4 separate regions of the Homo sapiens genome follow, and regions 1, 2 and 4 are each reported to be linked to region 3. The links are microRNA targets in miRTarBase. Many come from high-throughput screens and were not tested one by one. Region 3 holds a microRNA gene; each other region holds the end of a gene's coding sequence.

Evidence for each region. The annotated mature microRNA hsa-miR-484 reads UCAGGCUCAGUCCCCUCCCGAU and lies in region 3 at 3,222-3,243, opposite strand. An mRNA with a match to its seed (bases 2 to 7 or 8) in the 3' UTR can be bound and repressed. Matches are read on the target gene's strand: a 7mer-m8 pairs with bases 2 to 8, a 7mer-A1 pairs with bases 2 to 7 and ends in A, and an 8mer does both.
Region 1: miRTarBase lists NCAPH as a target of hsa-miR-484. Seed matches in the 3' UTR shown: 7mer-m8 at 1,688-1,694.
Region 2: miRTarBase lists KCNJ14 as a target of hsa-miR-484. Seed matches in the 3' UTR shown: 8mer at 5,555-5,562.
Region 4: the mRNA of SNRPD3 is a reported target of hsa-miR-484. Seed matches in the 3' UTR shown: 7mer-m8 at 5,028-5,034 and 7mer-A1 at 4,867-4,873.

The regions. Positions count from the first base shown.
Region 1 is chr2:96,372,537-96,379,655 of GRCh38, forward strand. NCAPH (non-SMC condensin I complex subunit H) reads left to right here. Exons shown (of 18, transcript NM_015341.5): 18 at 756-4,555. The coding sequence ends at 815. Among named protein-coding and RNA genes, the nearest start is that of NCAPH, 40 kb to the left of the region's middle.
Region 2 is chr19:48,463,441-48,470,559 of GRCh38, reverse strand. It overlaps KCNJ14 (potassium inwardly rectifying channel subfamily J member 14), which reads right to left. Exons shown (of 3, transcript NM_013348.4): 3 at 3,580-6,379. The coding sequence ends at 5,783. CYTH2 (cytohesin 2) reads right to left here and starts at 1,191. Exons shown (of 12, transcript NM_004228.7): 1 at 1,034-1,191; 2 at 60-207. The coding sequence starts at 1,052. It overlaps LOC105372430 (a long non-coding RNA gene), which reads left to right and starts at 1,027. Exons shown (of 3, transcript NR_186576.1): 1 at 1,027-1,549; 2 at 3,953-3,991; 3 at 4,622-5,149. RefSeq lists a silencer at 986-1,175 and enhancers at 539-1,532, 1,726-1,885, 1,590-2,090.
Region 3 is chr16:15,639,425-15,646,543 of GRCh38, reverse strand. It overlaps MIR484 (microRNA 484), which reads right to left and starts at 3,250; the gene lies at 3,172-3,250. MARF1 (meiosis regulator and mRNA stability factor 1) reads left to right here and starts at 3,390. Exons shown (of 27, transcript NM_014647.4): 1 at 3,390-3,526. It also overlaps a transcript of NDE1 not described here.
Region 4 is chr22:24,571,038-24,578,156 of GRCh38, reverse strand. It overlaps SNRPD3 (small nuclear ribonucleoprotein D3 polypeptide), which reads right to left. Exons shown (of 4, transcript NM_004175.5): 4 at 3,186-6,241. The coding sequence ends at 6,180. It overlaps LOC124905091 (a long non-coding RNA gene), which reads left to right. Exons shown (of 2, transcript XR_007068024.1): 2 at 1,097-1,478. Among named protein-coding and RNA genes, the nearest start is that of LRRC75B, 18 kb to the left of the region's middle.

The DNA of each region.
Region 1 (7,119 bases), not on the chromosome of region 3:
GTTGCAACTCTTCTGAGTAGTGTGATGAAATGTCACCATGTCCCGCTCCATCCTGCCCCGGATCTGAACCGTCCCTGTGTCCAACAGATCCACACTGCAGACGTGGCTCTCCCATTAGTCACTTGGTAGCCATCTCAGTTCCCAGGTCAACTGTTGGTGGTACTGCAGTGCTTGTGTTCCATTCCCTCTTATTTGACTTAATTTTTCTATTTTATTATTAGTTATTGTTAATCTCTTACTGTGCCTAATTTGTAAATTAAACTTGATCATAAGTATGTATGTATAGGAAAAAACAAGGTATATTTGTGTATACATATATATAAAAATCATATATGTGTATTTGATTTGGTACTATATGAGTTCAGGCATCCACCGGGGGCCTTGGAACACCCCTCGAGGATAAGGGGGGACGACTGACTATATGTATGTGTTGTGGCTCCTCATGACCTCCCATCTGCCTCCATTAGCATCTTCAGGGCAGACGGCTCAGCTCTTAGGCCCTTTATAGGGGGTGGGTTGCAGGAATCAGAGCCAGAGAAGGCTTGCTTTTTGCTTTTTCACCTAAGTCATTTTGTTATAACAAGGATTGGGAATCAGGTTTTTCATGCAAATTATACTTGCTATGAAACAGTTTTTCTTATAATCATGGGACAAACTTTCTTCTTTGTAGTCACTACCTTGTGACTGTGATTGGAATTTATGATTCTTTTATTCTCCGTATACCAAAGTCCATGCATGTTTTGGTCTTCCCTCAGAATCTAAAACTGGAAGGAACAGAGGACCTCTCTGATGTTCTTGTGAGGCAAGGAGATTGAGTTCACTATGGAGAAGTCAGCAGCAGGAGGCCCATCCCTTACTCAGTTGCCGGGACATCCCCAGTCTCGGGGGAAGAAGATGCCATGGGCTTATACCCAGGCTGTAGCCAACTACCAACGTGCCTGTTTGTTTGTTGCTCTTTCCTTCTCTCCATCATAGTCTGGGTGCCAGCGCCCTGAAGCTCCGTGCTCAACTGATTAAACTTTACTGCCCTATGGTGACCATCTAGGAGAGGGGAGGGCAGAGGGGGTGAGGGTACTATTCTGGATTGAGAAAACCTATATCCATTCTTTATATCAATGTATAGTTTTAGTCTCCTAAATTGATCTGTTATTTTCCAAACTATTCTCTTGTAGAAAATTTTCCAGTGGGCACTTAATGGTGCCCTTGAAGAACTTCCTAATCCATGTACATAAAATACATCATATGTACACTTATAAATGTATATAGAATGCTCAAAAATAAAATTCTTAATAATAGAACTGGCAAAATATTTGAGTGTCCACTAGATGAGTATCAGACCTAGTCCTTACCCTTAGGGGGATGCAGTCCTGGTTGTTATCCAGGATACACACCTGTCAGTATAAGGCAGAAGATGCCTAAGGGCCAAGATGGTTTGCCTCGGAGGAGAATGGAAGAGAGAGATTGCTGACTGGACATTCAGATGCAAGACTGGGTCCTGCTTAAATCCCAGGATTCTGCTGGAGGGAGCTGATAGTGATACTTGTCCCTTCTGTACATTGCTTCATGTAGCCTTCTCAGCATCCCTAGGAGAAACTTACTATTGTGACTCTCATGTTGGAGGAGGAAACGGACACCCAAGGTAGAGGAACTTGCAAAAGGGCAGCCGGCAAACTGTCAGGGGTGGCCTGAGCCTGGCAATCTGCCTCCAGAGTCTGCTCTCGGCCATTGTGCTATGTGCTACCTGGATAGGTCATACAGGCTCAGCAGTGGGTGGAGAGCAGTGCTCAGATTTGTCCATCTCCACAGAATGCAGCACACACACAAATGTACAAGTTCTTCCCCTAACCTCAGAGGAATAGGGGAATTAACTTTGCTTGCAATTTGGAACAATATTATAGATGTTGATCCAAGTAGTTCTGTTACTGGCTGGTCCTGGATCTCTGCCAGAACACCCGTCATCATTGACTGGCTAAATAGAGATCTTGGATATAGGCCAGAAGCAGTGAAGTATATAATTGGAAATTGCTCCTGATAATAACTTCCTTCTTAGCCAAAAACCACACAAAACAAAAATAATCCCCTCCCCACAGGAATATGCTTTCCAAATTGTGTCCAAAACATTACCTGCTCTGTTATATTGAGAAGGTTAGAGACTTCAGAGCATGCTTAGAAAAAGCAGTGGTGCCACAGGTGAGACTCCACACTCTGTCTTGCTGGGGCTGAAGCCTCCATCACTTTCCCAGGCCAGGTTAGTGCTGGGCTTCTTGCTTTCCTTCTATTCCTGAGAGTAGAACTGGCTAAGCCCATTCCTTCCCTCAGTCAGCCCCACTTCTCTATAGTGGGTTCTGGGGGTGGGGGGCTGAATTACCAGTAAAACTAGAAAGATTGGGACCAAGTGCAGTGGCCCACACCTGTAAATCCTAGCGCTTTGAAAGGAAGAGGCAGGAGGATTGCTTGAAGTCAGGAGTTCAAGACCAGCCTGGGCAAAATAGAACCCCATCTTTAAAAAAAAAGTTTAAAAATTAGCCAGGTACGGAGGTGTGTGCCTGTAATCCCAGCTACTCAGAAGGCTGAGGTGGGATAATCACTTGAGCCCAGGAGTTTGAGGCTGCAGTGAGCTGTGATCACACTACTGCATTCCAGCCAGGACAACAGAGTGAGATCCTATCTCTTAAACAAAAAAAAAAACTGGCGAGTTCAATACCAACTTCTACAATGAAATCCCCTTCCCCCCACAACCCTGCTTCTCCTAAGTTTCCCTCATTACATGGTTGCTGTGGGCTATGTGTGCTGTGGTCTGAATGTTTGTGTCTAAAATTCACATGTTGGTATTAAGAGATAGGGCCTTTGGGAGGTGATTAGGTTATGAGGGCAGATCCCTCGTGAATGGGATTAGTGCTCTTATAAAAGAGGCCTGAGGAAGCTTGTTCGTTCCTCTTGCCCTTCTGCCATGTAAGGATGCAATGAGAAGGCACCATCTGTGAGCAAGGAGCCCCTCACCAGACAGCAAATCTGCCGGCGTCTTGATCTTGGACTTCTCAGCCTCTAGAACTGTGAACAATAAATCTATTGTTTATAAATTAAGCAGTCTAAGTCATTTTGTTATAGCAGACAAATTGACTAAGACAGTGGGTATGCAAGATAAGTTTATTTTATATAAAATACTTTGGGAAGTAGGTGTTCTAGGACTGGTGTGACAGTTCCATGAAATTATGAGAGACCGGGGATCCTTCCAGCTCATCCTTCTGTTTCAGTGTGGCTGCTGGAATCCAGCCATCACATCCATAGTCTAAGCAGCAGGACGAAGGACTGGGGGAAAAGAGAACTGCTGCTCCCTGTTAAATCAGTTTCCTGGGGGTCGATATGAATATTTGCCACCTCAGGGTGCCACAAAGGTCCCCACCAGCAAGAAGGCTCCCACCAGATATGGACTCAACCTGGGACTTTTCAGCCTCCATAACTGTAATAAATTCCTTTGTCAGTTACCCAGTTTCAGGTATTCTGTTATAGGTAACAGAAAACAAACTAATACAAGTGGTAATGTGTCCAGCTAAAAATTTGGGTTCTGTTAAGGTTAAAAGAAAATTTGAGGTAGCCAGCAGTATCTGCCTCAGATGCTGAGAAGCCTCCTGAGATAAGAGCGTATACCATGTCCATAACTGAAGTTTTAACATTCTCTGCCAAACAGAACCAGAATTTAAGGGCAGGAGAATTTGCAAGATAGAATTTGCAATTTGCAAGAGGGAATTGCAATTTGCAAGAGAGGGGCAATTTGCAATTTGCAAGAGAGGGCAATTTGCAAGAGAGAATTGTGGGGCCCTGAGAGAGAATACATCCAAAGGAAGAGGGAACCAGGCATTACAAATTGAATTGAACAAGGACAGATATCTGAAGGGGGTTTGTAGTTCCCAGTAAAGTATGGTACAGCTAGGTGCACTTCCCTGGCCAGACCACCCTACAGTGTATGATCCCCCTGGGGAGCAAAAGGCTGCAGGTAACACTTTGGTGCCCTAGAAATTCTGCTGTGGTGCAACTATAGTGGATCACAGGCAGAGTGGGGCATTGTTCCCCTTCTTAGCACAGGATACTGGGTCATTTCAACACCACAAGGATTTGCAGCATCTGCGGCAACGAGTTTGGTGTCCTGGAGCAAGGAAAGGAACCGTTCATGGTGGCTGAAGCCAAGCTGCTCAGCACTGAGGCAGCAAGCCATGATCTAGGTCTTCGAGTAGAATTCTCAGTTTTGGTTCATTTAAAAATGTTTTTTGGGGGAATTGGGGATCATTTATGGGTACCAAAAGAAAAAAAAATGAATAAGATCTACTATTTGATAGCACAATAGGGTGACTATAGTCAATAATAACAATTGTATATTTTAAAATAAAGAATGTAATTGAAAAGAGTAAATGCCTGAGGGGATGGATACCCCATTCTCTGTGATGTGCTTATTTCACATTGCATGCCTGTATCAAAATATCTCATGTACCCCATAAATATATGCACCTACTATGTACCCACAACTATTTAAAAAATAATAAAATTTTAAAAAATTGTCTTTATGTTGCCTTTTTTTTTTTTTTTTTTTTGAGACGGAGTCTCGCTGTGTCGCCCAGGCTGGAGTGCAGTGGTGCAGTCTTGGCTCACTGCAAGCTCTGCCTCCCGGGTTCACGCCATTTTCCTGCATCAGCCTCCCGAGTAGCTGGGACTACAGGCGCCTGCCACCATGCCCGGCTAATTTTTTTGTATTTTTAGTAGAGACAGGGTTTCACTGTGTTAGCCAGGATGGTCTCGATCTCCTGACCTCATGATCTGCCCGCCTTGGCCTCCCAAAGTGCTGGGATTACAGGCTGCCTTCATTTTTGAAGGACAGCTTTACTGGATGTAGAATGCTTGGTTGATAGGTTTTTCCTTTGGCATTTGACTGTCTTCCAATGTCTTCTGGCTTCCATAGTTTCTGAAGAAAGGTAGGCATATACTCGTCACTATTCCTTTGTATGTAATTGCTGTTTTTTTTTTTCCCAGACTGCTTTCAAGATCTTTTCTATATCTTTGGCTTTCATCAGTTTAACTATCACATATCTAGGGGTAATTCTCTTTGTGTTTATTTACTTAGGATTTCTTGGGCTTCTTAGATCAGAAAATTAATACAGTGAGTTCCCATGGTAGCCATGTTCTATAAAGTCTCCGCAAGCACAGAATTAGCAAATGCTGAACCATTGCTCCTAGGTGAGATACAGGGTTAGCTTCCTGTGAGCCTCTGGTCAAAACATTTTCATCAACTGGTTAACACATAACCTTGTTTTATGTCTGCTCCTATTTAAAGACATTTAATATATCTTACAAATTAGAGGCAGTATTTATTAAAATAAAACACTAGCCAAGAAGGATTTAACATTTTCCTGGCCATGGGTAACACGACTGTAAATTTATTTGGCTTCTATCCTCACAAGAGTACTGTCCACTTAAAAAAAAAAATCATCTCATGAATCCACAAATTTAGCTGCTTTTTCATTCCATTCCATAGCTACCTCATACACTGTAGATGTCATAATACTTTAGCATTTTCTGGAATGGCTTCATGTAGTATAGATTGGCAAATTTCCTCCTTTGTACTGTACTGTTGGTTCATTAACATTGAACTCATAGCTAACAGCACTTTGAATCATGCCTGAATGAAGCCTATGTAACACACCTTTCATCACAACCTTCTTGCACTTAGCAGTACTTAAATGGGTGATCTACCCACCTCAGCCTCCCAAAGTGCTGGGATTACAGGCGTGAGCCACTGCTCCCAGCCTGGACTACTTCATATTACCCCACAGATCTTGGAGTTTCTATTTTTGCATATATGTGACAACTTTATTGAGATATTATTCATATATCATACAGTTCACCCATTTAAAGCCAGCACTTCAGCAGTACACTTAGGAGCCATTTTAATCAGCAAAATCACCAACAAAAAGAACCAAAATGGCTGGGCGTGGTGACTCACGCCTGTAATCCCAACACTTTCGGAGGCTGAGGTGGGCGGATCGCTTGAGCCCAGGAGTTCAAGACCAGCCTGGGCAACATGGCAAAACCCTGTCTCTACAAAAAAATACAAAAATTTGCTGAGTGTGGTGGTGTTGTGCCTGTGGTCCCAGCTACTCACAGGGCTGAGGTGGGAGAATCATTTGAGCCCAGGAGGTCAAGGCTGCAGTGAGCCATGGCTGCACCACTACACTCCAGCCTGGGTGACATAGCGACGGACCTCATCTCAAAAAACAAACACCAAAATGTGAAAAATATGGCACTAAAGAGACCCCAAAAGGCCACTTGTTTGCAGTATGAAAGCTGAAACAAGAAGGCAGAGTGTCACCTTGTTCAGCCTCAGATGGGAATATGTGCGTTGGGCAACTCAAAGTTCTTGCCACTCTACGTACATTCACAAATATCTGGGATTGCCAGCCAAGATGGCCGAATAGGAACAGCTCTGGTTTACAGCTCCCAGCATGAGCGACGCAGAAGACGGGTGATTTCTGCATTTCCATCTGAGGTACCAGGTTCATCTCACTAGGGAGTACCAGACAGTGGGTGCAGGACAGTGGGTGCAGCGCACCGTGCGCAAGACGAAGCAGGGCGAGGCATTGCCTCACTCGGGAAGCGCAAGGGGTCGGGGAGTTCCCTTTCCTAGTCAAAGAAAGGGGTGACAGACAGCACCTGGAAAATCGGGTCACTCCCACCCTAATACTGCACTTTTCCGACGGGCTTAAAAAACGGCGCACCAGGAGATTATATCCCGCACCTGGCTTGGAGGGTCCTATGCCCACGGAGTCCCCCTGATTGCTAGCACAGCAGTCTGAGATCAAACTGCAAGGTGGCAGCAAGGCTGAGGGAGGGGCGCCCACCATTGCCCAGGCTTGCTTAGGTAAACAAAGCAGCCGGGAAGCTCGAAATGGGTGGAGCCCACCACAGCTCAAGGAGGCCTGCCTGCCTCTGTAGGCTCCACCTCTGGGGGCAGGGCACAGACAAAGAGACAGCAGTAACCTCTGCAGACTTAAATGTCCCTGTCTGACAGCTTTGAAGAGAGCAGTGGTTCTCCCAGCATGCAGCTGGAGATCTGAGAACGGGCAGACTGCC
Region 2 (7,119 bases), not on the chromosome of region 3:
TGGGCATCCCTGGCCTCAGCCAACCCCACGCCCCCTAGGTCATCCGCCCCAGCCCTCACCTGCCCTCATTGGCCTCCAGCCCCTCCACCTCGCTCATGGCTTCACTGAGCTCCTCCCGCAGGCGCTGAATCTCCACCAGCAGCTCCTGCTTCCGCCGCCGGATGTTCTCCAGCTCCATCCGCTCCTCCGGAGTCAGGTCTGGGGGTTCTAGGGATCGGGGTCAAGGTTTAAAAGTCAGTGCTAGGGGCCGTGAGCCTGAATTCCTGCAATCTGGGGGCGGACAGAGCTGGGAGAGGATGTGTAAGGGGCTTCCTATGTCTGCACAGAAGAATGGGCTGGGGGCCTGGATTCCTCCCTGCAGAGGAGAAAGAGCTGGGGCTCTAAACTCTTGAGTCCTGGGGGACAAGGGGAATTGGGGCCCGGATTCCTGAGTCTGAGGGAGAAGGGGAATGGGTGCCTGAGCTCTTAGATCTGAGGGAAGAAAGGGCTGGGGGCCTCGGCTTCTAGGTCCATTACTTGGAAGGGGACTGAGGCCTTGGTTTTCTGACTCCATTACTGGCGAGGTAGCTGGGGACCTGGTTATCCGGACTACTGGGTCCATGAAAAGTCACTACAGCCGGGGGAACTGATGACAGCTCAGGAGAGTTGGGAAGGTGGGGCGGGACATCGAAGGCCCCCGCCCCCCAAGATTTCTCCCCTCCCCGCAACCCAAGCGCCCCTCCCCGGCCCCGGCAGGCGCTGGGCTCGCCCGCCCCTCCAGCGGGAATGGTTCCGCCCCGGCCTCGCCTCCACCACTCCATCCCGCCCCTCCCGCCGCCACCGGAAACAGGCTCAGCCCAAACAATGGCCTGGAACGCCCGGCTTTCGGGCCCCGCCGGAAGCCCGTCCAGCGCCCAACAAAAGCGGCGCGACAAGTCTACGACTGAGCCGAACGCTTCTGGGCGCCGCGCGCCAGGGGGAAACGTTCGCGGCGGAACGTTCAGGAGAAAACGCTCCAGCAACTCCCAGCCGACCCCGCCCCTCCCCGACCTACCATAGACGCCGTCCTCCATGGCGGCTAGGAAGGCCCGCGGGGAATCCGGGGCGGTCCCGCCAGTCGGGCCTGGATCCGCGTTGGCCCGCGGGCTCGGGTGAGCCCGCTCAAACGCCCCGGGAGCCACCGCCGCCTCCTCAGCGCCAGTCCTCAGCGCTGAAAAGACTCTTCCCTTCGTCGCCCAACCGCCCCTTCAGTAGGGACCGCCCCTCTTTTTGACACTGTCCAATCCACAGTGGGCGCTTTCGTCCTCCCCGCCCTCGCCACCAAAGGATCGTTCTCCAGGGCCAACAGTCGTACAAAAAGCCGGTGTAGGTATGTCCGGCCAGAGGTAGACGGCCCGCGGGGCCAATCGGAGTGCAGGCAGGGCAGCAGGCCCCGCCTCCGAAACAACAGAAAGCACTTGACAGGCTTGCTCTCCAATGAGAAGCCCCGGAAAAGTGTCGCGCGGAGGCGGAGCCACGCGGTACAGCCACCTCTGCGCCTGCTCAAAGGCCCTGGACACTTGGAGTCTAGGTAAACCGAGCCCCGCCTCCGATAATACGTTGCTAGGGGGCGGTACTTTGTTAGTCTTGTTGCTAGGAGGCGGGGCTAGAACTGGCTTGTTTCCGTAAGCCACACCTCCTAGCAGGCCATGCTGGCTTCTGACCGCAAAGGTTGCCATGCAACCGGGAGCGGCTTTAGGCCTCCTTTTCTTTTGCATTTCTTCTCCGCGTATTTCCCCTCCTCTCAGCCCCTTCTTACCGCCGAACTCCTTCTTTATCACCATCTATGCCCTCCCCATCCCCCTCAGCCTCTTCGGAGTCGTGGAGTGGTGAAACAAAAGACTTCTTCGTTTTTTCTTTTTTTTTTTTTTTTGAGACAGAGTCTTGCTCTGTCGCCCAAGCTGGAGTGCAGTTGCGCGATCTCGGTTCACTGCAACCTCCGCCTCCCGGGTTCAAGCAATTCTCCTGCCTCAGCCTCCCGAGTAGCTGGGATTACAGGGTTGCACCATGATGGTGCATGCCTGGCTATTTTTTGTATTTTTAATAGAGACGGGCGTTTCACCATGTTGGCCAAGCTGGTCTCGAACTCCTGACCTCATGATCCGCCCACCTTGGCCCTCCAAAGTGCTGGGGTTACAGGCGTGAGCCACCGCGCCTGGCCAAGATTTACTTTTTTCTAAATGCTATGCTATTTGGTATCGGTCATGGGGAATGGAACAGGGGAAGGTGAAATTTAGTGAAAGCACAGGCTCGGCCTTCCTGGCACCTTCTGCCGCTCAGACTCCTCCCTCATTTCTCCAAACTCCTTCCTTTAGCTTAGCATCCTCCTAAGACTCCTCCCTTCCCCAAGCATCCTCCTGCTAAGACAACTCCCCTTTCCTCAGCATCCTCCCACCTCTCTGATTCCTTCTCCCATCTCAGAGGCCTTTTTTCCTCTCTGGCTCCCCTCACGTCACGGTCCCCCTTGTCCTCTCATACTCTTGCCCTTTTTTTTTTTTTTTTTTTTTTTGAGACAGAGTTTTGCTCTTTTGCCCAGTCTGGAATGAACTGGCATGATCTCAGCTCACTGCAACCTCCACCCACAAGGTTGACGCGATACTCCTACCTCAGCCTCCCAAGGAGCTGGGATTATAGGCGCCCACCACCATGCCCGGCTAATTTTTGTATTTTTAGTAGAGACGGGGTTTCGCCATGTTGGCCAGGCTGGTCTCAAACTCCTGACCTCAGGTGATCCACCCGCCTCAGCCTCCCAAAGTGCTAGGCGTGAGCCACCGTGCCCATAGGCGTGAGCCACCGTGCCCAGCCACCCTTGCCCTTCTTAAACTCCTCCCTCCTCTGAGGCCCCTTCCCCTTCCCCTTCCCCAGCCTCTATGTCCCATTATTTGTAACGGAATGTGGTCAAGGGACTGGCTGGAATAGGGAACCCAGGCACCCCTGTAAAGAGGGAAGCCGTAATGGGGGCTGAAGTGGTGTCTGGGCCTCGTCCTCATTTGCTGTCCCTGGGCTGGGCAGGTGGAGACGGATTCAGGGCCAGGACCTAGTTAAGCTGTCGGATTAGACATGGAGGCTCCTAATCCCCTCACTGACCTTTATGAGTGGCCCAGGCCCTGCCCTCCCCAGTGGAAACCCAGGCTGGGCTGCCCTGCTCCCATACTCCTTTCAAACGAAACCCCCTCCCTGCCCCTTCACTTCCAACTTAACATCCTTCCCCAACCCTGCGTTTCCATTGCCCCCATCCCTACCTACCCCAGACACCCTGAGCTGAGAGAGCAGCCAGCTAATTAATCCCATCCGGTTATTACATGGGGATTCTGAGGGATAAAGGGAGATGGAGAAGCTGGAGGGGGCATTTGGGTTGATGCAGCACTTGTGAAGGCTGAATGGCAATGACAGTGGCTGCCCTCGGTCCAGAACACGGGGTGGGAACACGTCCTCCTCACTGTCACTGGCTCCCTCTGCAGTTGGCTCCCAGCCTGCGGGGCACTTAGGTAGATGGTAGCATGGGCAGGGGGCCAGGTCGGAGGACCCATGCTCGAGAAACACATTCGCAGACACATCCGCTAGGGCTCCCAGTTCTTTAATCTGGGGGACAGGTCTCCCCCTAAAACACTCACTCTCCCACAATGGGAAGAACCCTGGTGTCCAGAGCTACCTCCTCCTCCCCAGGTCCCCAAGCTAGGCCAGGGAAGTGACTCTGGCTGTTAGCCACAGCCCACGCCTACCCTTGCCCTGTGATTCAGACACCCGAGTTCAGAGCCAGCCTCCAAGAGTATCTTACATCCCAGCGTCTCCTGGAAGGCCGTATGATCCAGCACTGGGGAGAGGAGGGAAATCCCCAGGACTCGAATGCCCATCCCACCCTTGGTGTAGTGAGGACTCATCCTGCTGGAAAGGCCCCTGAAGAACTTCAAGTTCCAATATCCCGTTTTTACAGATGGGGAAACTGACATGAAGAGGAGTCCAAAGTGACACAGTAAGTTGGGGCAGCATTGGGATTTAGAGCAAAGCTTCTGGGGTCCTTGAAAAGGACCTCATTCCAATTAGCTAGCACTCCATCTCTAAGCCTGTTGTAGGGACCAAGGGAAAAAATAGATAGATATCTGTATTTATATTACATATATATAATATACATATGTATAATATCTTTAAGAAACAGACACACGGCTGGGCATGGTGGCTCACACCCGTAATCCCAGCACTTTGGGAGACCGAGGCAGGTGGATCATCTGAGGTCGGGAGTTCAAGACCAACCTCGCCAACATGGCGAAACCCCGTCTCTACTAAAAATACAAAAATTAGCCAGGCATAGTGGCTCATGCCTGTAATCCCAGCGACTCAGGAGACTGAGGCAGGAGAAACACTTGAAGCCGGGAGGCGGAGGTTGCAGTGAGCTGAGATCACGCCATTGCACTCCAGCCTGGGCGGCAGAGCGAGACTCAGTCTCAAAAAAAAAAAAAAAAGAAAAAGAAAAAGAAATAGACACACATCACTAGGTGTAGGGTTCCAGAGCATTCTAGACTCACCAGCCCTGGGCCTCCCCCTTCCCTTGTCCACTAATTAGCCCTGTGCCCTACAGGGTCTCACCTTCACCTTCACCTTCCAGGTCAGGCCAGAAATGTTGCTTCTGAAGTCCTGAGTCCACCTCCTAGCACTGCCAAGCAGTCCACCTGGAGGTGATGAGAACTTCCAGGCTTTGGTAATGGACAACTCTGTATCCCTGGAGCCTTCATTCCTTTTGGCATTACAGAACCACAAGAAGTCATCTAGAATCATTGAGATTCTCAACTCCATTGGGCAAACTGGAACCAGCAAAATCTCAGATATCTAGAATTGCCACTGCTTCCTTGACTCTGTGATCAGTCTACAGCCACAGAATCCTGATTCCCTTTGGACATTCTAGAATGGCACTTTAAAAAAAAACAACCCACCCAGTGGATCCTTTCAAAGCACTGCTTATTCTCTTGGCTGGGTGCTCTACAGCCAGAAGTTGGAGTTATCTAATATCAAGAACTCTTAATCTGTCACTTCAGTCTTTCTAAACCCACAGACTAACAATGTTTTGTGCATTCTAGAAACATTACTCTTTAGTTTCTGGAGTAGTTCAACTCTCCACGTAAAATCTGTCCTAGACTCACCAGTGCTTGCCTCTGTGGTCAACCTAGACTCACAGAATCTCAACTAATGAGCTTTCTGGAACCACAGGTCTTTTTTTTTTTTTTGGTCTTTGGTCAATCAAGATGATCTTGAATACTTGGGGCATTCCATAACCTTCCCTCCTTAGGTGGTCTAGAACAAATGATTTGCTACTCAGTTGGCTGAGTTGAGAAGCAACACTCCCTTGAATCTTAGGTGAATCCAGACCTACAAACTCTTGATATCTGATGCTGTTCAAGAACTGCCAACTTGCTTCCCCAGAGGCAGTCTATACCATTGGCTTCTCACCCTGGTCAACAATCCAGGTCTCCCCATATAGAGGAATCTAGAACTGCCAGTCTTTTCCTCTTGGGTGATCCAGAATTCTGGTGAGACTGAGGAATCAGGCTCATAAAGGGTTCTCAGGAGGGAGCACAGAAGCAGAGGAATTAAGGTCCAGTATGTCCATGGTGGGTCACCAGGCATGGCAGAACCTTACCACCTAGTCATTTACCCAGCAGGCCTGTCGGTATTCAGGAACACCTGCCCCCATCCCAGGAGAGAGCCCCATCCCTCCATCTTGCTACCTTGGGGAAGGGGGCATACACGGGGAAGGGGACATCAGTTTGCATCATGGAGGCAGGGTCAGCGCCAGGGTTGGTGTGAGAACTCGGGGGCTAGCAGCCCCATCTTCTGTTTCCACCCCATTCCCTTCCTCAGTCTCATCGTCCTCATCTTCCTCCTGGCAGCAGCTCAGAGCAAGTTCATTCTCATAACAAAATGCAGTCAGAGAGCCGGGGAAACTAGACTTGAGGCTGTGGGAAGCCTGCTCTGCCCGTTCATCCAGCTCCTTAGCACTGCAGACCGGTGTCCCTGGGACCTCATAAGTGCGATGGAAGTGGCGATAGTCGACCTCATACTGGGAGCCACGCTGGAAGAGAACTGGCTCAAAACGATGGCCCCAGAGCAGTTCACCAGGGAGGTAGGACGAGCGACACTGTGTGGTCATGGCTGTGGCCTCAACCATCCCCTCGAGAATGACCACCAGCTCAAAGTCAGCCCTGGCCAGCTCGGCACGTCCTAGCTCATACAGAGGACTGGCAGAGTCGATCTCATGGACGATGGTGATGGGGGACACGAGGAAGATACGATCGGTGCCTCCATCAAAGCCCACATCCACATCCTGGTGGTCCAGCGGGATGTACTCACCCTCTGGGGTCACACGGGGCTGCAGCAGGAGGCGAGGAGCCAAAGACAGCAGGGAGCACAGAGACGGGCAGAGACGAAGTGAGAGAGAGGAAGAGATGCAGAGAAAGAAGGCAAAGACCACAGGAGTGAAGAAAAGGGTGAGAACACAGATCAAGAGATGGGGCCGGCAACCCAGAGAGAGAGGAAGTCAGAGAGGCAGGGGAGGGCACAGAAACCCAGTAAGGGAGCCAGAGACCCAGGAGGGGAGGATGGAGGTCCAGAGAAAACATGGGACATGGGACAGAGACCCAGAGATAAAGAGAGAGGAAAGAGACTCAGGGTTTGGGGGTAGAAAACGGGAAGAGGGGCGTGGTGGGGGAAGAGGAGAGAGGGACAGAGTGATATTGGCATAGAGACACAGAAATCAGCAAGACAGAGATGAAATCAAAGCGACAACGGAAAATAAGGATGACATTCAACAGAGAATTGGAGAAGGAGCGGGAGAGAAAAATGGCTTTTAGTATGTGGCCAGAGAAAGATAAATCAGATGACAAGAAGGGGGAGTTAGGGCAACCTAGGTCCAACATTCTGCACCCACCACTGCCTCAGGCTTATCCCTGGGCTCTCCCCTGAGCTATCCTAGCTGTCAGGGCAACTGCAAACCCTTCCATGTCATTCTGTGTGTGAGCACGCTTTGTGGGGGTGTGGGTATTTCACCCCCGCCTACCCGCTGGTTCCATAGCCACCTCCCAGGCCAAGTCACTGCCCCACCGACTTCTG
Region 3 (7,119 bases):
AGTGGCACGATCTCGGCTCACCGCAACCTCTTCCTCCTGGGTTCAAGCGATTCTCCTGCCTCAGATTCCTGAGTAGCTGGGATTTCAGGTGTGCACCACCACGTCCAGCTAATTTTGTAGTTTTAGTAGACACAGGGTTTCACCATGTTGGTTTGGCCAGGCTGGTCTCGAACTCCTGACCTCAAGTGATCCACCTGCCTCGGCCTCCCAAAGTGCTGGGATTACAGGCGTGAGCCACTGCGCCTGGCCCCCCTCGGAATTTTATTTGGCCCTAACCACTCTGTGACGTTTCTGGACAGGAACTAATCACCTCAGCTTACAGAGAAACCGAAGCACAAACTGATGAGGTACTGGTGTTGCCTAAATGGCTTTGATCAAGGTATTTAAACTAGTTGGTTCTCAATTTCCCAAATTTTCCATAAAGAAAAAAGAGAGGGCATTGAAATAATAATCCTTAAAGTCCTATTTGGGAACAACATTTAGGGAAATAGGTTTGTCATTGGGTAAAACCTTAAAAACATTTAAAATGTTTTTCTTGTTCTTTTTAAATTCAATTTGTTTTCCTTGTAGCTTTGGACTATGGCTGAGCAGATAACTCAATTTAACTTCCTTAGGTCCTTCCATGATCATTTATTAATTCAAACCACTGAACCTAATACAGGTAGAAGATTGGTTTCTGGGGAGAAACTCCTTTAATAACAGCTTGGTTAGTTGAAAAGCTGAATTGCATGTAAAGTAGCTACTTAAATAGCACACAAAAAAGTCTTTCGGTTTTCATACATGTGAAGACTATAATTTGGACAAGGGAAAAACTGAAAGTTACTTGTACTCTCTAAAGTTTTCCCAGCAAAGAAACAGGAATACAATTAATAGAGGATACATACTTAAAATATATCTTAAGAGAAAATTTATGTATTTTGATTCATAATTGTCTCCTAAGGCCTGGTATACTTTGCTTAGGCTCCTAGTCTTTAGAAAGCAGCAATAAAATTACATTTCTTTTAAAAGTATTTGTAATTCAGACTTTTATTAGCCTTCCACTTAATACGACTGTTTTGTTTTTAAAAATTTTTTTAATAGAGACAAGTGTCACACCATGTTGCTCAGGCTGGTTTTAAACACCAAGCCTCAAGGGGTCCTCCTGTCTCAGCCTCCCAAAGTGCTGGGATTACGACATGAGTCACCATGCCCCGCCCATTTTCAATCACTACATTTACTTGTTGTGACTAGTTACAGCTTTGGACTTGAAAGAATGCCAAGCTAAGTCAAACAAAATGTGTCTGCTTGGTAAAAAGGAATCTAAAAGAAAAATATACATATAAAGAAAATGTGGTCAAGCTCGTTGGCTCAGCCCTGTAATCCTAAAGAGGCCGAGGCGGGAGGATCACTTGAGGCTAGGAGTTCGAGACCAGCCTGGCCAACATGGCAATATCCCGTCTCTACTAAAAACACAAAAATTAGCCAGGCATGGTGGTGGGCGCCTGTAATCCTAGCTACTCAGGAGGCTGAGGCATGAGAATCGGTTGAACCCGGGAGGTGGAGGCTGCAGTGAGCCAAGATCCTGCCACTGCACTCCAGCCTGGGCAATGAAGCAAGACTTTGTCTCAAAAAAAAAAAAAAAAAAAGTAAAAAGGAAATGTGTCTGCATTCTTTGATGTTTTCTGGCTAAAAACTATTTTTTAAAAAAAGCAATTAGAAACCTACAATTACCTTGTTTCTTAAGATTTTTAGTTAATATGGCTTGTGTTGAAACATACTCAACTGAAATAAAATGGGGAAAAAACACCTCTGAAGAGTAGCGTATTTGTTTGGTACTTTGAAAAAAGCCAAAACGCTAGAAACGGGTTTTTCATCTATTCTAATCTCCACTTGGAAAATACTACCTATACACAGACATAATGAAGATTTTTTTCTTTTTCTTTCTTTTCTAAATAGTGATAGGGTTTCACCGTTTCCCAGTCTAGTCTCAAATTTGTAGGCTCAAGAGATCCTCCCTCCGTAGCCTCTCAAAGTATTGGGAATACAGGCCTGAGCCACTGCGCCCAGCCCACAGTCAAGATTTAGTCAGCAGTAATAAATACCTACGCAGGGAGAGGATGTGTGCTTGTCATCTGCCTTCTGGAAAATTAAATACAGGCACAAAGGATTCTTCAGCTACATGTCTGATCCTGCCCTCCACAATACCCGTCTACAGGGATGTTTACAGGGATGTGTTAATCCCCACGTAATGGGGATTGCCTATTGAAATAACCTCCCAGTAAGGATTTTTTTGGGCAAAATATTCTCGTTTGGCAATTTCGACTTACTGATTCTTTTGCAAAGTCAACTTGTTTCTGGGCAAACTTTAAAAATAAACTCCTAAGGTAGCATTTAGCTAGCAGCTAGCACATCCTAAATCGTGTCTAGATTTAACTTACACAATATGTGCTTTGCTTTTTTCCTAATTTGCAACAGAAAATAGTAATCAGCTGGTAGTTTCAGAAATCACCCTTTTGCTGAGTCTTAAATTTTTTTTTATTCCAGGGAAACGTGAAGATTGTGGGGCGCTATTTTTTTTTTTAAAGCAAACCACACAGCATATCTGGCCACCTAAAACACAAAGTGTTTGAAACTAACCGTAAGATTTCCTTTCTGCTCGCCCAACCTGTCACTGGAAACGCAGTATTCATTTGTAACCAGCTTTGGAGCAGGGCTTTTAAAAATAACGTTTTCTTGCTAAAGTCCCCAAAAATCTCTTGATTCTTGGTGGCAATGTCCAGTTGAGTCTTTGCACACACTGTATTTTTGCCAACTGGGTCGCAACTTTGCGAGAACTCCGGGGGACCTCGTAGGAAGCCAGGTTGGCAGTTATTTTTTTCTCCACTTGCCACTAGGTTGCACTAGATTTAGGATGCTGGGGAATATGCGCCATTTAATTTTTAAAAATAAAGTAGGACCATCACGTGACGAGACCCGAGAGAGGAAAAAAAAAAAGCCGAAGGGACAGGGTTTTTCATTGAAATCCCGTTCAAATCGCCTTCCCTCCAAAGCCTGAAAGAGCTGAATTCTATTAAATCCTGGTTGGCAGGTTTTTTCCTCGGGTCCACGTCACGAGCTCATTCTCCGCTTCAAGGTTCCTTTCGACTCCACAACGTGAAGCCAGGGGGAAGGCCTCCTTAAACTGGGGGTTTTCGCCAAAAAAGCCAGGGTCACCCCCCGGGAAAGTCCCTATTTAGGGGTTTATCGGGAGGGGACTGAGCCTGACGAGGCTGCAGGGCCGCGAGGCCCCGCCCCCCCCGGGGTTCCCAGCATGCCCCGCGCGGACAGGACGCGGCGGCGGAGGCGGGGCGAGGAAGGGGCGGGGCGAAGAGGAGAGAAGGGCGTCGGTTTTGCGACAGGGGCGGTGCGGTGCGGAAGCGGAAGTGAAGGGTGCGCTTGGCGGCGGCGGCGGGAGCTGCGGAGTCGGGAATCAAAACAAAGGGCCTGGGGGGGGCGGGGGGAAGGCGGCGGGGCCGGAATGTGAGCGGAGGTGGAGCCGGCGGCAGAGGTGAGTTTGCAGACAGTCCTGCGACCAGACCCCGGCAGGCTCTGCTCCGAGGCCAGCGGGGCGGGACGGAGGACAGTGTCCCCTCTTTCCCCGCCTATTGCTGGTGGGATGGTGGTGGAGAGGGGAGGTTAGCTAACTGGGACGCGCCAGTTGGGCCCCCCACGAAAGAGTTGGCTTGTCTCCCTTTCGGGTCCATTCACTACTGTCACTGTTGGCGCCGCTGTTCCCCTTCGAGGGCATTTGGCTCCCCGCCCGCCCCTGTCTGACCCCTGGTGGGGCCCTCCAGGAGTGAAGTGCACAGCTGGAAGGTTAAGAGAGAAGGAAAGGGGCGGGTGTTTTTGCAACACACTCCCCCCTCCCCGGCCGTTTTGCATTCTCCTCGGCCTTTTAGCAACACATAGGGTGTAGTCTCAGGGTTGACAATGTCTAGGGCTTCAGCCACTCTCACTAGTAGTTGTAACGCGACCTCGTGATACACCTTTTAGAGTTTCTCAAGCACCTTTCCGGTATTACCAAGAGCTGTCCAATTGCATTTGTGTCTTTTGGACTTCTCTGAGCGGTAAATATTCTTCTCTTTTGCATATCGGTGTATTGAAACCTAAACTGTTTTCCTATTTATTAAGCTTTATTCGTTCAACAGTTATTTATTAAAATATGCCAGGCATTGTACTAAGGACAGGAGTTGGAATAGTGGATAAGAAAACATAGTCTCTGCTGTCATGGAGTTTATAGCCTAATGGGGGAGAAAGATAATAAAATAAGCTAAAAAGGCCGTTTTGGACAGAAGAGCTATGGGGGAGAAAACGGTAATGGGATGGGGTGGTGTGGGGTCAAAGACTAGATTGGGTGCTAAGGAAACAACATTTGCTAAATGTTCCCCGTGGATTACCTCATGTAATCCAAACAACGGCCTTGTAAGGTGGTTTCTATTATTATCACACCCATTTTAGAGATGGGATCTGAGGTTCAGAGAGGTTGTGAGTTGTCCAAAGCTGCACCGCAGTCAAATTGGAGACCAAAATGCAGACAGTCGACAGAGCCTATGCTCTCCTCATTGAATTGGTCAAAAGACTTGAAGAGAGTGACAGAAAGGAGACTGTCGCTCAAGTCAAACAGAACCTGCTTTTGGCTACCTAAGTTGCTTCGTGGATGGTATTTGGGAAGTTTTCAGGGTGCAGGCACCTGAAAGTTTTTACTTTTAATCGCTTGTATTGAGCAGTATTGAAGGCACCTTGATGTAGTGGAAAGGGGTGAACAAGCCTAATCTTGTGTCAGGCTCGCTACAAAACTTCATTAAGTTTCTTTTTCTCTCTCTGCAAAAATGTAGCTAATTTCTCCCCTGTCTATTTCACAGGATTATTGCAAAAATTATATAAGAGGATCCCACCGTCTGGGTTTTTTTCATCATTATATTCCTTGTGCCAAGCACAGGCCTGCTGCATAGTAGATACTAAGTAAATATTTGCTGAATGAAGACATAAGTAATGTTAAGTGAAAATACTTTATAAACTAGATTATACTGTGAATGTTAGCTCACTTTCAGGATTTGGCTTTGAAGAAGTTTGAGAGAATGTTTAAGTTATGAACACTGTGAATATCACAGATTCTTACGATTTTGAGAGGAGTTTTTTGGGGGACATAAAACCTGTATCTAATAGGAAAGACAAGAATCGTAATTTACTATCAGTGGTAGCAGTTAAATCCATCTCCAAATTAACCACTCCCAATAGTGTGTAGTAGGTAATGTTTACTTTGTATTTACAGAGTAGGGAGCATTTTGGTTGGCACAAGAGATACAGTGGTGAAAATAGACAGTGGGGTTCATTTATCTAATTTTTTTTTTCTCTGTAATGCAGTGGCGGGGAGAAATTAGCCACATTTTGCATAGGAGGAAACAGAAACTTGAAAACAAAAATTTTTTTAGAGATGGAATCTCACTCTGTTGCCCACGCTGAAGGGCCAGTGGCACAATATAGTTCACTGTAGCCTCAAATTCTTGGGCTCAAGAGATCCTCCTACCTCAGTCTCTCTAGTAGCTGGGACTAGGCGCATGCTGCCACACTATGCTAATTTTTTGAACTTTATTTTATTTTAGAGCTGTGATCTTGCTATATTGCCCAGGCTGACAAAAGAGCCACGTAGTAAATATAGGCTTTGTGGGCCATACAGTCTCTTTGCAGAGACTCTCTTTGCAACTCTGCAATTGGAATGCAAAAGCAGTCATAGGCAGTATTTAAGTGAATGAGTGTGTCTGTGTCCCAATTAAACTTTATTTATGGACACTGACATTTTAATTTCATGTAATTTTGTTTGTTGGTTTTTGAGACAGGGTCTCACTCCGTCGCCCAGGCTGCAGTGCAGTGGTGCAATCACAGCTCACTGCAGCCTTGACTACGCAGTCTTAGGTGATTCTTCCACCATAGCCTCCTGAGTAGATGGGGCTACAGGCATGCACCACCACGCTCAGCTAATTTTTTGTAGCCATGGGGTTTTGCCATGTTGCCCAGGCTGGTTGGGAACTCCTGGGCTCAAGCAATCCACCCACCTTGGCCTCCCAAAGTGCTGGGATTGCAGGCCTGAGCCACGGTGCCTCGCTTGCATTTATTGTTAAGACCTGTAAGAGTGTTGTTGCTCTGGCGTAGATATAACACATCTGCGACTTGAGATTTTTCTATCAGTTAGATTTTTGGTGGTATATCAGATTGCACTTTCATCATTAGTAAACTAAGAAATTGGTTCAATTTGTTCTGTAGCAAATCAAATTCAAAGTCCACAGAGGCCACTTAGTTTGGACTTTTCATGCTCAGATCAAGAAACCAGTGCAAGAAGTTGCTCTTAAGTCAATTTTAAAATCTTACATATAGTTGTCAATGAGGATGTGGTGGTGGCTCTTTTACTCAGATTAGATGCTCTCTTCTGTTAACTTTTGACTTTCCTGAGCAGCATCTTTAGGGAGAGAGAGCCGAAAAGAATTCAGAAAAACTGTAGAAAAAATTGATTCCAGCCAAGTGAGGAGGTGAAGTCTCACTCTGGAATATGCAAGTTTCCAAGATATGGCTACCTCTCTCAAACATGGTTACATGTGGAAAGGAAACAAGACTCATGGAGAGTTCATTTTTTATTTGAAGAGCTATGAAACATGAAGAATGGCAGATTATAGATTTTTTAAGAAATCAGGTTGTTGCAGTTAGATTTTAAGCATAAACAGTCAACCAAGTTTACCAAATTTTATTAACCCGTAATATGCTCTGATATTTTGTGTTTTTTTCTTTCTTTATTTTATTATTATTATTTTGTTTGTTAAGATTTGAATTGTTGGCCGGGCGCAGTGGCTAATGCCTGTAATCCCAGCACTTTGGGAGGCCGAGGAGGGTGGATCACTTGAGGTCAGGAGTTCAAGACCAGCCTGGCCAACTTGGTGAAACCCCATCTCTACTAAAAATATAAAAATTAGCCAGGCATAGTGACAGGCTCCTGTAGTCCCAGCTACTCTGGAGGCTGAGGCAGAAAAATCGCTTGAACCCGGGAGACGGAGGTTGCAGTGAGCTGAGATCGTACCACTGCATGCCAGCCTGGGCGACAGAGCGAGACTT
Region 4 (7,119 bases), not on the chromosome of region 3:
TTCATCTTGGCTAGTGGCAGAAAAACTCCTGTATGCTTTGATTGTTTTTTAAGGTTATGGTTCTACCAGTGTAGAAGCTGGGATAGTATCAGTGAATCAAGTGAGTCCACATCCACCCTTGTACAGATAACCAACCAGAGGCTGGGAGAGGTGGTCACGGTGGCACTCAGAACCAGAATTCATGTTTTTGGTTTTTCTTTTTCTTTTTGAGATGGAGTCTTGCTCTGTCACCCAGGCTGGAGTGCAGTGGCACAATCTCGGCTCACTGTAAGCTCCGCCTCCTGGGTTAAAGCAATTCTCTGCCTCAGCCTCCTGAGTAGCTGGGATTACAGGCACCCGCCCCAACACCTGGCTAATTTTTGTATTTTTAGTAGAGATGGGGTTTCACCATCTTGGCCAGGCTGGTCTCGAACTCCTGACCTCGTGATCCACCTGCCTCGGCCTCCCAAAGTGCTGGGATTACAGGCGTGAGCCACCGTGTCCTGCTCAGAATTCATGTTAAATACTGGTCTAATTACCTTTATGACATCATCCTTTAGTCTATATCTTCTTTAAATCTGAGTTATTCTTTTTTTTTTCTTTTTGAGACAGAGTCCCGCTCTGTTGCCCAGGCTGGTGTGCAGTGGTGCGATCTCAGCTCAATGCAACCTCCACCTCCTGGGTTCAAGCGATTCTCCTGCCTCAGCCTCCCCAGTAACTGAGATTACAGGCATGTGCCACCACACCCAGCTAATTTTTGTATTTTTAGTAGAGACACGGTTTTGTCATGTTGGCCAGGCTGGTCTTGAATGCCTGACTTCAGGTGATCTGCCCACCTCAGCCTCCCAAAGTGCTGGGATTACAGGCATAAGCCACCACCCCCAGTCTTATTCTTCATTTTAAAGTAATATATTTTCAAAGAAAAAAAGCAAAAGCATGCTGAAACATTCATATTTCCACATGACCTGACTTCCCCAATCTTGGCAAAAAAGTTGGAAGCTTATTCTCCAGAGGGGGTTAGAAGGTTTCTGGACTAGGAGCCCTCCCAGAGACCTGGATGAAGGAACTGAATGTGGACATACTAGAATGCTGAAATTCTCACCCTCTTCCCCAACAGAGCTCTCAATCCAGCAGCTCAGAGTAAACCCTCCTGATGTGAAACCAAAAGTTTCTCCAAGAGAACCTGTCCAGCCTGGAGCAAAGTTCTAGAAGTATGGACACTGGGGATTTCCCCAAAGAAGCTCAATGAGATCACCTTACAATCACATATTCTTTTTAATACTCCACTCTTAAATATAAGCAAGATTACCAACGATTGCCAGGCAGCTAAAGAAAGTCTGTAACATGAAAGATTAAATTGAAGAACAGAAAGCAGAAAGACATATGCAGGGAGATGAAAGCTTCTACAGAGCATATTAATATCCTCAAAGATGTTGCAACAAGGAACAAGGTACTGTCCCTATATATCTACGTATATAAAGGAACAATCAGAGAATCAACTTGGAGTAATCCTCCATAAATTATGATCAAAAGAAAAGAAAATTGGGGTTGGGGCACACAGGGAGGAGAGGTAATTCTGGGTCCACCATCTGAGTAACAGAAATTCCAGAAAGAAAAACCACAGACAGCCGGGCCTGGTGGCTCACGCCTGTAATCCCAGCACTTTGGGAGGCCAAGGCAGGTGGATCACCCGAGGTCACGAGTTTGAGACCAGCCTGACCAACATGGTGAAAATCTGCCTCTACTAAAAATACAAAAAATTAGCCGGGTGTTGGGGCAGGTGCCTGTAATCCCAGTTACTTGGGAGGCTGAGGCAGGAGAATTGCTTGAACACCGGAGGCAAAGGTTGCAGTGAGCCGAGATGGCACCATTTCACTCCAGCCTGGGCAACAAGCGTGAAACTCAGTCTTTAAAAAAAAAAAGAAAAAGAAAAACCACAGACAACCTAAGGAAGAAAATCACTGAGAATGAATTCAAGAAAGTTTCCCAGAAATTAAGGACAAGAGTTCACTCGGAAAGGGGCCTGGCATGGAAACAGACCTTCGCCAAGGCAGGTATTAATACGTCATTCTGAAATTTTGGAACACTGATAACAGAAGGGAAAAAAAAAAAAGTCATATAAAAAGGATCTGGACTCTGGCCGGGTGCGGTGGCTCACGCCTGTAATCCCAGCACTTTGGGAGGCCGAGGTGGGTGGATCACACAGTCAGGAGATCGAGACCATCCTGGCTAACACGCTGAAACCCCGTCTCTACTAAAAATACAAAAAAATTAGCTGGGCGTGGTGGCGGGCGCCTGTGGTCCCAGCTACTCGGGAGGCTGAGGCAGGAGAATGGCATGAACCTGTGAGGCGGAGCTTGCAGTAAGCCGAGATCGCACCACTGCACTCCAGCCTGGGAGACAGAGCGAGACTCCGTCTCAAAAAAAAAAAAAAAGATCTGGACTCAAAATCACTTCAGACTTCTCTACAGCAATGCTAGATGACAAAGTAGCCATAACTTCAAAATTCTGAAGGATACTAATTCCTTTTTTTTTTTTTTTTTTTTTTTTTTGAGACGGAGTCTCACTCTGTCACCCAGGCTGGAGTGCAGTGGTGCAATCTCGGCTCACTGCAGGCTCCACCTCCCGGGTTCATGCCATTCTCCTGCCTCAGCCTCCCGAGTAGCTGGGACCACAGGTGCCCGCCACCACGCCCAGCTAATTTTTTTGTATTTTTAGTAGAGACGGGGTTTCAGCGTGTTAGCCAGGATGGTCTCGATCTCCTGACTGTGTGATCCACCCACCTCGGCCTCCCAAAGTGCTGGGATTACAGGAATGAGCCACTGCGCCCGGCACTAATTCCAACATAGAATTTCATACCCAATCAAATCAAGTGTGAGCACATTTTTAGACATGCAGATACTCCCCCAAAATAAGGTGATAAAAGAAGAGGTTACACAGAAAACAGAGATCCAACAGAGGAGCAGTGTGGGGAGTGCCCAGGGTGACAGTGACACACCAAGCACGGGGAGAAACCAGTCCAGATTGGGGTGGGTCAAGAATAATAACTGATAAATGATGTCATGATCTTCAGATATGATTGGGGTTGAATTAGTGACAAATAGAAAACCAAGCAAATAAAAATGCAAGAGGATTACTTTCAGGGAAAAGTTCCACAGTAATCTAGTCTATTGTATGACTCAGCTGTGATCACTATGACACTGTCATATTTTTAAAAAGTTTAATCACATCTTAATAATTTGACACTGAATATGATCTAACCAGAATTACAATATCAGGGAGATGGGTGAGAGGAAGTAAATTCATGGTGGGCAGGAGGAAGAGAGGATTCAAAAGATAATGGTGGCCGGGTGCAGTGGCTCACACCTATAATCCCAGCAGGCCGAGGCGGGCAGATCACTTGAGCCCCGGAGTTCAAGACCAGCTTGGGCAACATGGCAAAACCCTGTCTCTACAAAAAATACAAAAATTAGCTAGGCATGGTGGTGTGCACCAGTATTTCTAGCTACTCAGGAGGCTGAGGTGGGAGAATCACCTGAGCCCGAGAAGGTTGAGGCTGCAGTGAGCCATGATTGTGCCATTGCACTCCCGCCTGGGGAAGAGTGAGACCGTCTTAAAACAAGCAAACAAAAAACCATCAAGGAATAGTCATGAAAACATGTTCATATTGAGACATGGAGGTAAATACAAACAAATCAGCCAAGAGTTGGACAGACTACTGTGAGGCAAGGAAAGTGGGGTAAAGGCAGGGTAGGAGGGCTACTGTTTTTCATAATAAACCTTATGGAACAACTTGTTTTCAATCTGCGTCAACTGATTTTCCCCCCTAAGATGCAGGATATAAAACTGTTTACAAAGCTACATATTTTAGGTTGATCCCCCTTCACTTTTCAGATCTAGGTAGGGTTATAGCCAGTTTCCATTGCGTGGAGAATCTGCAAGGCTGGTGTTCCTGTACGGGTCCAGAGTGAACTACATCAAAAGTCGCTTTTGATATCGAGGATGCAGTTCACTACTATTAAGTGTAATGTGTTATTATTCAAAGTAAGTACTGTTTACTGTAAAAGTATGATGAATTCAGTAATGATTATACTAAAATAACATACTAGTACAGGGTCAAAATACGGCTTTAGGTCTACTTAAGATAGAATACTTAAGAATTACTTATCTGGGGACCAGGGAATTGTTTAAAATGCAGATTCCTGGGCCCCACTCCAGGTGTGCGGCTTGCAGTCTTCATTTCTAATAAGATCCTTAGTTGATGTTGAAAACCACTGCTTTCATTTGTTTTTTATTTAAGAGACAGGGTCTCACTGTCATCCAGGCTGGAGTGCAGTGGTGCAATTATAGCTCACTGCAGCCTTAATCTCCTGGGCTCATGTGGTCGTCCTGCCTCAACCTCCAGGATAGCTGGGACTGCAGGCATCAGCTGTGCCCAGCTACTTTTCAATTTTTTGTAGAGATGCGGTCTTGGTTAACAAAGCTTAACAGCCCAGGCTAGTCTCAAACTCCTAGGTTCAAGTGATCCTCCCGCCTCGACCTCCCAAAGTGCTGGCATTATAGGCGTGGGGCACCATGTTTGGCCTGAAGCCCTATTTTAAACGTCTATTGTATCTGACCAACTCACTGATGCTTATTCCTCAGAATACCAGCTCTGTAACCTCCAGGTAGTATCATAAGACAAAGCTTATTAGAACCTCATTAATTGATGCCAGGTTAACTAATGTGCTGGATTTTTTTCCCCTCCTCTTTCATTACTTGAATAATCTGTTCAATGAGCAATATTCTAAAAGCCAATAATTGATCAGTTTTCCTCTTGATGGCTTATGCTGTAGCTCATACCATAATGAATACCTGGCAAGACCTCTTTTTGGTGATTTGATTTTTTCAGGCTGCTTTTCCAGTTTCTGTGTTTTTGTCACAATTATTCACCCTGTGTATCTTATACTCTTTACTACTACTTATTTTTCTTTAAAGACAAAGTCTTGCTCTTTTGCCCAGGCTGGAGTACAGTGGCAAGGTCATAGCTCACTGCAGCCTCATACTCCCAGGCTCAAGTGATCCTCCCACCTCAGCCTCCCTAGTAGCGAGGACTACAGGTGTGCACCACCATGCCAAGTTAATTTTTAGAATTTTTTGTAGAGACAGGGTCTCACTATGTCTCGCGGGCTGGTTTTGAACTCCTCTCAAACAATCCTCTACCTCAGCCTCCCAGAGTGCTGGAAGCAAGCCACTGTGCTGAGCTGCTGGTCACCCTTCCTACATTAACAACTATGGATGTGCCAATCAATGCTGAGATGCTCTGATATGCTCCCAAGAATCTGTTTCCACAAATCACCACAAAACTACTTGTTGTAGCCAGTATACGAGCCAAGGAAGCTGGCCACTAGGATCCCCTGAATTACTTTTTTTTTTTTGAGGTGCAGTCTCGCTCTGTCACCCAAGCTGGAGTACAGTGGCATGATCTCTGCTCACTGCAATGTCCACCTCCTGGGTTCAAGCGAATCTTCTGCCTCAGCCTCCCGAGTAGCTGGGACTACAGGTACATGCCACCGCACCCGGCTAATTTTTTTATTTTTAGTACACACGAGGTTTCACCATATTGGCCAGGCTGGTCTCGAACTCCTGACCTCGTGATCCGCCCGCCTTGGCCTCCCAAAGTGCTGGGATTACATGCGTGAGCCGCCGCACCCAGCCCCTGAATTACCTATGACTTTATCAAGGGAAAGAGTCACCTGTGTTGTTAAAGCTGAGCTGATGACAGCTCCACAAATGTTAACTGAACAAAGTGCCACACTATGTGCCTGTGTCTGAAGATGAATGAGACACAATCTGTGTGTTCTCGGAGCTTCTCCAAGGTGAACTTTTCTGGGGCTTAACCTGCAACTGGCCAGGAACAGCAGCTTAAAATCTCATCAATAGCTGTGCTATTTCAAAGTACTGGCATTCTCCCAGGACATCCCCCAGGGTGTCAAAATTTAGCCAAAGCAAACTTCAAATGAACACAAAGTCCTTATTTTCTCAAAGAAAACAAAACAAAACAGAACAAAAAACCCCCCAGATTTATTTAGCTTAAACATTTCCCCTGATCTAAAGAGAAAGATGGCAAAAGATACCTAGCATATATGCACAAGCACCCACTCCAATGAACTCAGATAACCTGAAAGAAAAAAGGACAAAGTTCTGTTCAACTTAGAAAATTATCTTCGCTTTTGAAAGATGTTTCCACGTCCCATTCCACGTCCTCTTCCTCTTGCGGCCACTGAAAGGGAAGAGAAAATATGAGGCCAGGTCAGTGTGGTCGGTGAATGCTCATAGCACAGAGTAGCCAGGGCCCTAGGACACCAGTTAGAAGGGTTCTGAAGGGTTACCTGGTCCAACACCACCCTGGCCATTGCATTTCCACCTCCCGCCTTTTTTTTTTTTTATTTTTTGAGACGGAGTCCCACTCTGTCACCCAGGCTGGAGTGCAGTGGCATGATCTCGGCTCACTGCAATCTCCACCTCCTGGGATTAGGCGATTCTCATGTCTCAGCCTCCTACTTGAGTAGCTGGGACTACAGCCGTGAACCACAACGCCCGGCTAATTTCCTGTATTTTTAGTAGAGACAGGGTTTCACCATGTTGGCCAGGCTGGTCTTAAACTCCTGACCTCAGGTGATCCACCCACCTCGGCCTCCCAAAGTGTCAGGATTACAAGCATAAGCCAACACGTCCAGCTGACAGCCACTGCATTTAACAGGGGGGATGGAGACGGAGGGGCAGGGGCTGGGGACTGGCATCAAAGCAGGAGCTAGCAGCACACTCTTGCCTTCCAGTCCCACACTGCTCTCTACAAGAGGCTGGGAGGCAGCATGCTGAGGGCAAAGAAGGTGGTCTGAGAGCTACAGAAAAGACAAATCCTTGGGGCTGGCCTTGGGTGAGCTGAAAAACATTATAGATGCACTGAATTAATTTTTTCAATTCTGAAACAAATATAGTTAAGTGTTAACATGTGTTAGATCTGGGAGAAGGGTTATATTATCTTTTGTATTTTTTTCTGAGAAAATAATTATTTCAGGCTGGGTGCAGTGGCTCATGTCTGTAACCCCAGGGCTTTGCGAGTCCAAGGCAGGCAGATCACTTGAGGTCATAAGTTTG